3 separate regions of the Homo sapiens genome follow, and regions 1 and 3 are each reported to be linked to region 2. Evidence: microRNA targets listed by miRTarBase, many of them from high-throughput screens and not tested one by one. Region 2 holds a microRNA gene; each other region holds the end of a gene's coding sequence.
The links. Region 2 holds the annotated microRNA hsa-miR-3150a-5p (CAACCUCGACGAUCUCCUCAGC, at 1,626-1,647, opposite strand). A microRNA usually pairs through its seed, bases 2 to 8, with sites in the 3' UTR of a target mRNA and lowers its output. Matches are read on the target gene's strand: a 7mer-m8 pairs with bases 2 to 8, a 7mer-A1 pairs with bases 2 to 7 and ends in A, and an 8mer does both.

Region 1: the mRNA of EXO5 is a reported target of hsa-miR-3150a-5p. The part of its 3' UTR that is shown has no 7-base or 8-base seed match.
Region 3: the mRNA of ZNF507 is a reported target of hsa-miR-3150a-5p. Seed matches in the 3' UTR shown: 7mer-A1 at 279-285.

Annotation. Positions count from the first base shown.
Region 1 is chr1:40,514,973-40,518,228 of GRCh38, reverse strand. EXO5 (exonuclease 5) reads right to left here. Exons shown (of 4, transcript NM_001346953.2): 4 at 2,191-3,256. The coding sequence ends at 2,563. Among named protein-coding and RNA genes, the nearest start is that of EXO5, 7.8 kb to the right of the region's middle.
Region 2 is chr8:95,071,316-95,074,571 of GRCh38, reverse strand. MIR3150A (microRNA 3150a) reads right to left here and starts at 1,658; the gene lies at 1,579-1,658. MIR3150BHG (MIR3150B host gene) reads left to right here and starts at 1,390. Exons shown (of 2, transcript NR_132986.1): 1 at 1,390-1,643. MIR3150B (microRNA 3150b) reads left to right here and starts at 1,576; the gene lies at 1,576-1,661. LOC124901980 (a long non-coding RNA gene) reads left to right here and starts at 2,319. Exons shown (of 2, transcript XR_007061013.1): 1 at 2,319-2,826. It also overlaps a transcript of NDUFAF6 not described here. RefSeq lists a silencer at 1,084-1,183.
Region 3 is chr19:32,382,739-32,385,994 of GRCh38, reverse strand. ZNF507 (zinc finger protein 507) reads right to left here. Exons shown (of 7, transcript NM_001136156.2): 7 at 1-3,256. The coding sequence ends at 2,912. Among named protein-coding and RNA genes, the nearest start is that of DPY19L3-DT, 21 kb to the left of the region's middle.

The DNA.
Region 1 (3,256 bases), not on the chromosome of region 2:
TGGGATTACAGGCGTGAGCCACCGCGCCCGGCAAATTTTTTTTTTTTTTTTTAGACAGAGTTTTACTCTGTCGCCCAGGCTGGAGTGCAGTGGTGTGATCTCGGCTCACTGCAACCTCTGCCTTCTGGGTTCAAGCGATTCTCCTGCCTCAGCCTCCCGAGTAGCTTGGATTACAAGTGTGTACCACCATACCCAGCTAATTTTTGTGTTTTTAGTAGAGATAGGGTTTCACCATGTTGGCCAGGCTGGTCTTCAACTCCTGACCTCAGGTGATTCGCCCACCTCAGCCTCCCAAAGTGCTGCGATTACAGGTGAGCCACCACGCCCAGCCCTTTTTCCTGTTCTTAAAACTTCTAGTATAACTAAGATGATGCTATAGAACTTGAGCAAGTTCTTTTCTTGAAGACTATTAGCTTAATACCATTTATCCCATAGGTCCAGTGAATTTAGGTTCATTTAACTCTAAACTTACTAGGGCCTATAATAACATACAGTCCAGGATGTTCAACAAGAAAACTTTAATAGCATAATGATTGAGAGCATAAGCACTGCCGTCAGACATATCTAGCCTGGAGTCTACCACTTTCAAACAGTGGAACCCTGGAAACTTTTTTTTTTTTTTGCAGTTGCATGATCATAGCTCACTGTAACCTTGAATTCTTGGGTTCAAGTGATCCTCCTGCCTCAGCCTGCCAAGTAGCTAGGACTACAGGGATGCACCACCATGCCTGGCTTTTTTTTTTTTTTGAGATGGGGTCTTGCTATGTTGCCCAGGCTGGTCTTGAACTCCTGTCCTCAAGTGATCTTCCTACCTTCCCCTCCCAAAGTACTAAGATTACAGGTGTGAGCTACCACACCCAGCTGAGAAAATTATATAACCCTTCTAGGCCTCAGTTCCCTCACTGGAGATAATGGATACAGATTTAATTATAATGTGCTTAGCACAGTGCCTGGCCATAAGAGTCACTCAGTGAAGAGTCATCATAAGATTCCAGGGTCCATAAGAAGAGTATGTGAAGAAGGGCCTCCAGAGACAACCTACCTTATCTCCTACAGATGTCCAGGATTTACCAGCTCATGTATAACATGGAATCATACTAACAACATTCACCATGTTCTGTTGGCTCTTAATGTTCCAGTTAATACAGAAACTCTACCCCTGCCAATTGCCCTCCCCATGCATTGACTTCTGCAAATTCTCCAGTAGTGTCACAAGCAAGTCCTTATCTTCCAGGTGACGTCCGTATCATCCTTCCTCTAGCTGCTTTGATGATGTTTGTAGTTAAGAGCTCCACTGCCTTCTAAGATGGCTTGGGATTCCTCTCCACTACCTTTACATTTTCCTTTAAATGTTATTTTTCACCTTATAAAAAGGGTATCATGCTGTATGTAATTTTCAGGACTTTTTTCACCAAATGTTGTGCTGCTAATATTCATGCATATTGTTTTATGTCACTGTAGCTCATTTGTTTTGGCTACTGTACATTTTCCACTCTTCTGCTGATGGGCACCTGGGTAGCTTCTAGGCTTCTGCTATTGTGAAAGTGCTACAAAGTATATTCATGTTCACATTTTCTATTGCACATGTAGGTTTCTTCCAGCATATACCCAGGAGTGCTACTGCTGGATTGCAATATGTGAATGTTACATGTTACTTCATGTATTATTTTTCTTTTTTTTTTTTTTTTAAGACAGAGTCTCACTCTGTTGCCCAGGCTGGAGTGCAGTGGCATGATCTCAGCTCACTGTAACCTCTGCCTCTCAGGTTCAAGCTATTCTCCTCTCTCAGCCTCCCAAGTAGCTGGGACTACAGGCGCACGCCACCACCCCAGGCTAATTTTTGTATTTTTAGTAGAGACGGGCTTTCACCGTATTGGTCAGGTTGCTCTTGAACTCCTGAGCTCAGGTGATCCACCCATCTCAGCTTCCCAAAGTGCTGGGATTACAGGCATGTGCCACCGCACCCAGCCATGTATTATGTTTTTCGTATCTAATATTTATGACTTCCTGTTTCTACTTCATCTTCCCTTGTCTCTTTGAGAATATTTATTGTTTATGTTTTGGTCTGCTCATTCTGATTCCAAAATATGTTTATGTATATATTTAAAGGCTTGGAATAACACGTACACAACTATATATGGTGGTCATCTTTGAAGGACTGCAGTTATGAAAAAACCATCAGTTCAACTGTCCTGGACAGCATTTCATTTTATTATGTAACTGTAGAAAGCCTTGATCAAGATAAAAATAGGGATGACTTATCAGAAACTGAAGAATTTTCTTAGGAAAGCAAAGTTTACTGAAGGATACCTTCATTCCAGCCATGATGAGCATCTGTCTTCTCAGGCAATCATGATGAAGCTCCAGGGACAGTATAACCCATCTCTCCCACTCATCCCTGAGCCTTGGTCCTGGACTGAATGTGGTTAGAGGTTGTGGAAATAAAAAAAAGAACCAAAATAAGAACACTCTCCATAAAAGCCAAGCTCAGAGACTGGTCCTCTTTTGCTTAGGTACAACAGGAGCAGGAAGGATCAACATTCTTGAAAGCATACCTTCTATTCATTTGGCTTTTTTGACTTGGGGCGCCAGTGTAGAGCTGAGCACTCCACTGCCCTTTCTCCACTCACAAATGTCTGCATAGGTACACGTCCGGCACTTCCAAGCCTCCTCCACGTCAACTCCCTGGGGCTCTCGGTGGCCCATCCAGTAGGCCATATAATGCTGCACCTTGGCTCTCACCTCCTTCTCTTTGAAGGCTACAATCTCAGTACCCAGCACAGTGGCAGTCTCTTGGTGGATATACTCAATCTTCAAGATATCAATAACTGGGAGGTCTGACAGTGTTAGAGACAAGAAGACAAGTTCCATGAGGTCACCCAAAGACTTCACAGAGAAGCCTCCCTGCTGGGCATGCCTCAGCACTGATGGCCCCAGTGGCTTTTCTAGACACAACTTTGTGTGGTGGATTAGGCTAGCAGGGGTCACTTTTCCTTGTACCATGGCATCAAAGATATATTTGTATAGGCTGACTTGAAAACAGTCTTTCTTCTTCTGAGCTTCCAGAGGGAGCATAGGGCGCCTGCGTGTCTTGAGTTCCGCCAGCTCCAGTTCCCCCTTGGCTGTATAGTGCAGCTCATCAATCACTCCAACAAGAAGTACACCCTCCCCTTCCCCAAACACTGGAAACTCTCTGATGTGCCCTTCTGACTGCAGGGTAGGAATCAGCAAAAGTATGTTCAGAAACTTAATTGCC
Region 2 (3,256 bases):
TTAGGAGGTAGTGCATAAGGCTGTACAGTTTTAGACATAGGACATTGGAGGAGATGGAAAGTCATCTTCAGGTGGTTAGAAACCCAGGGCCACTTTTGGTTGGTGTTCAGGAAGGGAAGTGCAGAGAGGTGGAAATCTCAGCCACAGGTCAAACACTTCCCTGGCCCCAGATTAAAGACCAATCCAATTAAGCATGAGAGCACACGAGCCACACAAGTCGCACAAGTCAGTAACGAAAAGGACTCCCAGGTGATCTTAAGTCACATAATTAACATATTTTCAGGGCCCTACTTGTATGTGGCCCTGAAAACGTTGAGACTAATCAGCTGGAATATATCCATTTTTTTTTCTCCTTCTTTTTAAAACCTTATTATAGAGAATTTTAAAAATATACAAGAGTAGAAATAATTCTAGAACGAACTCCCATGTTTTCATTACCCAGCCTCAACAACGATCAAATCATAGCCAACCTTGTTCCATCCCAACCCTTACCCACTTCTCCCTGCGTTATTTTGAAGCTAATTCCAGACATAAATATTTCAGTCTGAATTTCTAAAAATAAGGACTCTATCCTTTAAAAATAAGCACAATGCCATTATCATGCCTTAAAAAATTAACTATGGTTTCTTATATCAAATATCAAGTCAGGTTCAAATTTCCACTAAAGTTTTAAGTTTCCATTAAAAGCAGTTGATTTGAATCAGGATTCAAATTAGGACATCAGGTTGGGATTGGTTGGCAGGTTTTAAAGTCTCTTTTACTCTTTGGGTTTCTCCCCTACCCTCTGGAGAGAGCTCCCCACACCGTGGCTTTGCTGACTGCATTCCTTGGGTGGACTTTCACTTGTGCCTCTGTCCTCGACATGTCCTGTAAGCTGGAAGCCGGGATCAGATTCAGATCCATTTTTATTTTAAGTGTTATGCAAAAAGACACCCAGTGAAGGTGTTAGAATGAGCCATGGCAGTGGATGGGGTTCGCAGGACCCCTGCGGAAGGGGGACGTTTAAGGGGCAAGCGGAAAAGGAGACACCTGGAATGGGGGAGGAGGAGCAGCGGGGCGAGGCGGGGGCGGTGCCGCGTGGTCTGCGAGCCCGGATATTCCCTGGGGAGCGCACCTGCGACTTCACCTCCAGTCCCTCCCCGGCTGGGGCAGCGGGGCGCGGGCGCTCGGGAGAGGTGGCGCTGCCTACTCGGCCTCATCTTGCTGAGAATGCGACGGGGCGACAGCTTCCTGTCTTTTCCAGTGGCTTTTGGCATCCCCAGAGGAAAAAACGGGGAGACCCGCTTTGGCCTCAGGAAGCGCAGAAACACTGTCCTGGCTGCGCGCGCAAGGGCGAGAACCTAGGGGACCCGCCTAAAGCGCCGTTGGGGCTGAGCACCGAACTCGCACAGCTCCGGGCAGCGACCCGCGATGCGGCATCCTTCCGTCCGGTCGGAGCCCTCCTAGCCCTCAGCGCGTCTATTCCTAGCTTCGGTCCCCGCAGCCATATAAGCAATGACACCCTCGCCGACTCGCCTGCCAGCTTGGCCGCCTCCCTGCAGAGGGCTGACGCTTCTCCAGAAGTTGTAAGAAAAGGAGGGAAAGCAGGCCAACCTCGAGGATCTCCCCAGCCTTGGCGTTCAGGTGCTGAGGAGATCGTCGAGGTTGGCCTGCTTCCCCTCACTCCTCGGGCCTTGCTCTTCCCCCAGGTGCCCACTGCCCTCCCTGCTGTGTACCACTTTCTTGCTGCCTGTGAAGGTATTTGTCCTCACTCTTGTGCTGCTCCTTCAATGATAGAACTTTGGGACTTTCTCATCCAGCAGCACCAGCCTGAAAAAGCAGTGGCTTGCACCACCACACACATACCTGGTCTCAGGTGGGTGGATCAGGGCAACTTGGCCACTAGTGCCCCAGTAATGCCCATCTGCCCAACCTCAATGCAGGAGCAACAAGTATTTCTCTGTCTTGGAGAGATCTAGAAAAAGGCTGAACATACCACGAGGGTGTTGCTTCAGAAGAAAATGCTGGTCAGGGTTCCAAGCCATCATAGGAACTTGTGAGCTGAGAAACATGGTCAACTCTACTCTCTCTCTCTTCTCTACCTACCCAGGCAGCCACAAATCTCAGTGTCAGTCACTGCTTTGGTTTGACATCTAAGGGCTCTGTTACAAGGGTAACTAAGATGAGTACCAGTAGATGCCCAATGACACTTGTAAACATGAAAGTGTATACCAGTATAAAGGATGCTGCAGCCTCAGCCTTGAAAAGTAAGGCTTTTAGGGAATGAAACAAAGGATAGTCAGGTTCTTAGGGGACAGGGAGGGTTCTGGCATGGGGAGCAGCCCTGGGCAGGTCTGGGGGTGCTGCGAAGTAGGGCACCGCAACATAACGGCCCTGTGTCTTAGGTGGCCAGGAAGGGGAAGGCAGGAGATACAGAAGGAAAGGAAACTAACATTTTATTGAGACAGGCATTGTGCTGGTCCTGAGGTTTATGCGAAGATTAATTTCTGGGGGTGAGAAGGTAAAAAATGATGAGGTGGAAACCAGCATCTTCTGTTACTCCCATCTGTGCAGAGTTAAAGAAGACTTGAAAGAAGGGGATGTGAGTGGCAGGAAAATCCCCAGTGACCGGCCCTGAACCTTCTGCCAGCGCAGCTCACCTCCTCCCCAAATGCCTCCCAATAGGATCTCAGCCCTAAACAAGCACAGGGCGTGGGGTGGTACAGATGATGATGTAGCTGCTTCTGAGATGCCCCTGGGCGCTGCTGGAGCTGAGCCCTGGGACTGGAATGACTTTTGCCCGCTGCCCTCAAAATTCCCACAGGCCACACCGCTACCACCTCTTGGGTAAAGTAGGAGGGACACATCTCCACCACCATCCAAATTGTTACCTAATGAGGAATTTTGCCAGGAACTACTTACAGCCCAATGGAGCCAGGCTGGGTATTTCCAGGACATGAGCCATTTTCTCTGTGCCCACTAAACAGGGTGCAGGTCCCTGAAGCCCTCAGGGAAGCTGCAAAGGTTACTGGGGTCGGCTCTGGGGCAACAGCTGACCTCTTAGCTCCCACTGCAGGCGTAGGAACCTCCAGGACAGCCTGTGGGGGTGGTGAGTCTGCAAAGCTGGCTGGCTAATGAGGGTGCAGTGCTGGTAGTGTCTGCCTTATGCTTTTTTTTTTTTTTTTTTTTCTTTTGGAGACGGAGTCTCGCTCTATCGCCCAGGCTGGAGTGCAGTGGTGAGATCTCGGCTCACTGCAAACTCCACCTCCCAGGTTCA
Region 3 (3,256 bases), not on the chromosome of region 2:
CCTTTGCCATATGTAGTTTCTTTTCAAAGCTATTTTCACTATCACGTCTTAGTATTTTTTAAGTGTTCGGAGCAGAAAACAAATACTATGAGCTCTGTCTAATAAGAAGTCAATACCAATAAATAACATGTTATTCTATGAAGGAATTCCTACTGAATTTTTTTTTTGGGGGGGGAGGTAAACAGAGGACCTCATCTGTCACCCCGGTTGGAGTGCAATGGTGCCATCACGGCTCACTGCAAGCCTCTATCTCCCAGGCTCAAGTGATCCTCCCACCTTAACCTCCCAAGTAGCTGGTGCTACAGGCACGTGCCAACTATGCCTGGCTAATTTTTAATTTCTTGTAGAGACAGGGTCTCCCCGTGTTGCCCAGGCTGGTCTTAAACTTCTGGACTCAAGCAGTCCTCCAGCCTTGGCCTTCTAAAGTATTGGGATTACAGGTGTGAGCCACTATGCCCAGGCTACTGATTATTTTAATAGCTATCTCTTCTACAGTTAGAATTGCATAATCTTCATTATTACTTTTAGAAAACTCAATTGTTCTTGGTAGACACATTGTTAACTTAAGGCTTGCCACAAAATGATAATGGGAAGGGAAAGAACCTCCTTGATATATGCTTCCTCCTATCGGCCAGGAGAAAGCTTTTAAGGACAATTCTAAGGCCAGAATCAGATGAAACTTTAAAGGCTTTGAACTTCTGGGTTAGTTTTTTCCCCATGAGGTGGGGAAATTTTAAATCCATGATTCCAGGTGGAAAATTTAAGTAACAATCAATGGAATTAGTTTAAAGAAATAAAGGTAATTTAAAAATTCACATCATTGAAATTTTGGGGATGCTTTTCATTATTATTTTCTAAATATGATATAAAACTAAAGCCAAGGAAATTTTCTAAGACAAAATCCTTCTAAGGTTGTTGATTTTCAGAACAACAGATTTTTATAAAGAAATACTGAGTCATTGTACCAGCAATGAAAAAACTGACTTACAATATGAGTGGCAACAGTATGGGTAATAATAATGAAATCATTTTAAATGTTCTATTTGAATTTGAAATTAAAATGTTTCAATTCCGAAAAAAGGAGAAAATGAATATAAGTCCACATACAGTGGATTTGAGGAATATAGTATATATAAATCCATTTCATATTTTTAAAAACCACGTATCAGAAATGGATTAACTTTCATAAATAAATTAAAGCTACCTAAATAAAAAAGCTGCAAAGTTACAATCATTTATGTTTGTTTAAATATCACCAAAATGAGATTAGAAAGAAAGAAAAAAAAATCAGAAAATGTTGCAAGATGCCTGGCCCCACTTAAATAATTCCTAATAATAATTTTATAAATATTAATCCAATCATACCTGGACTTTAGGAACAGAATACTTCTTAAAACGTGCCTACAGCGTATCCCATTCGAAAACCTTTACAGTGTTCCAAGTTGATCGGTCACAGCCTCATCCAGGTGTTAGAAATCAATATTCAGATATTCGGAAATAGCACCGTGAGGATGGTGCACAGAAGAGCGCACCGACCTTTTCACTTGTAGGCAGAATTTACTTAAACAAAACAATGCATAAATGAGTAATCAGAACTACAAAAACAAAAACACCCTGTTTTCTTCACTCCTTGAAATAATTAAAATACAAAATGTGTAATTAATAAGATTACATCTATTTGATGGTGAGTTTTAATGCTAAAGCACTTTGTGTTGGTTTTCCATATGTCCTATCGCACTCTAACAAAATAGAATTTCCAGATAGGAAGAATCCTATAGACTTGCCAAATGCTATTTGTTATTAAAATTTTTACAAACAACCTGAATTTCTGCTATATTTTAGTCACATTTGGTTATATTCCTCTTCTGCTAAATATAACTAAATTAATATACCCCAGGAAAGAAAAGCTCAACACAGCAGTACTCATTTTCAGGAGCTTTTAAATTTCACCCCTCATCCCCTAAGGGATTTTTGGAAATAGTTCAAACTATTTCCAATGCCGGATGATCAAATGTAAATTTTCATACATTGTTTCTTTCACACACTTTCAGATAACAAGTGTGGTTTCATTTAGCAGAGTATTAGAAGGTCTACGTACTATGGAGAAAGTATGCCAAGTTCTGACAGACACTGAAAAGAACCTCTGAGAACACGGAAGACGATTTAGCATTACTACGAATTGAGATCTGGTTTGAGTCTGGTGAGAATTCACCTGTTTCGTCCTCTGCTCACAAGAAATTCATCGTAAATTTAAGACAATACTTCTTGAATGCCTATTTACAATCTAGCTTTGAATTTAGAGATCTTTCCTTTCTTTTTTAAGGAGTAAAGGAACATGTCCTAGATTGAGTATGATTAATTTCTATCAATTTAGGTATTTCAGTAGATCATTTCAAAGCCCTCTAATTATGTTTCCTTGTTGACTCTGTTGGTGACACTGAAAAAACCCCCTCCCAGAACTGCCTCCCATTTCTCACTGGAGGCCTCACAGTCTGCATTTGACAAGTGAGAAGAAAACTAAGCTCTGCTTAAGACTGTGACCCTTTTATGACTTTTAGAATAGTTCCTGAAAAGCCCTTTCTTAACTCTTGCTGGCATTTCTACACTCTAATAAGCTTTTATTAATAAATACACTCGACACTAAGAAGGGGTGACAGAGGGTTAATACAGGATTACACCTCTACTTCCTCTTTGACCCACTCCCCCTCACTCAAAATATTTAAATATCATTACTGCTTGTCCATTTGGAATTCCTTTTATTACAAGTTTGGTTCCAAAGTCACATCTGTCATTTCCTCAAAAATCACATCAACGACTTCTTCTGTGGCAGGAAGTTGTCTGACAGCGTAAAGGTGAAACTGTGGTGAAGGAATCCTCTTCTACTGCTTTCCTGCTCGAGTCATTATTCCACCTAATTTGTGTTTAGAGCTGTATTGTGGTCCTTATTCAGGATGATGTTTACAATTTCACCCTCGTGCTCTTTCATATGATCCAAGAGGTTTTCTTTGCTGGTTGATTCAAAACCACAAATACAACAGCAGAAGAGTAAAACGCAGTACTCCATGCTAGGAGGGGCCAGACTGGAGATTTTTTCTAAACTATATGAGGTATTACTTGTAGGGCTCAGTTTCTCATTCTCGTTGGTACCCAGAACTTCACTGGGAGTCTGGGACATCAGTTCTGAAGATGACACTGCATTTTCTGAACTTCCAGTGACGGGATCTGCACTCTCTTCACTGCTCTTTAATTGAGTCTT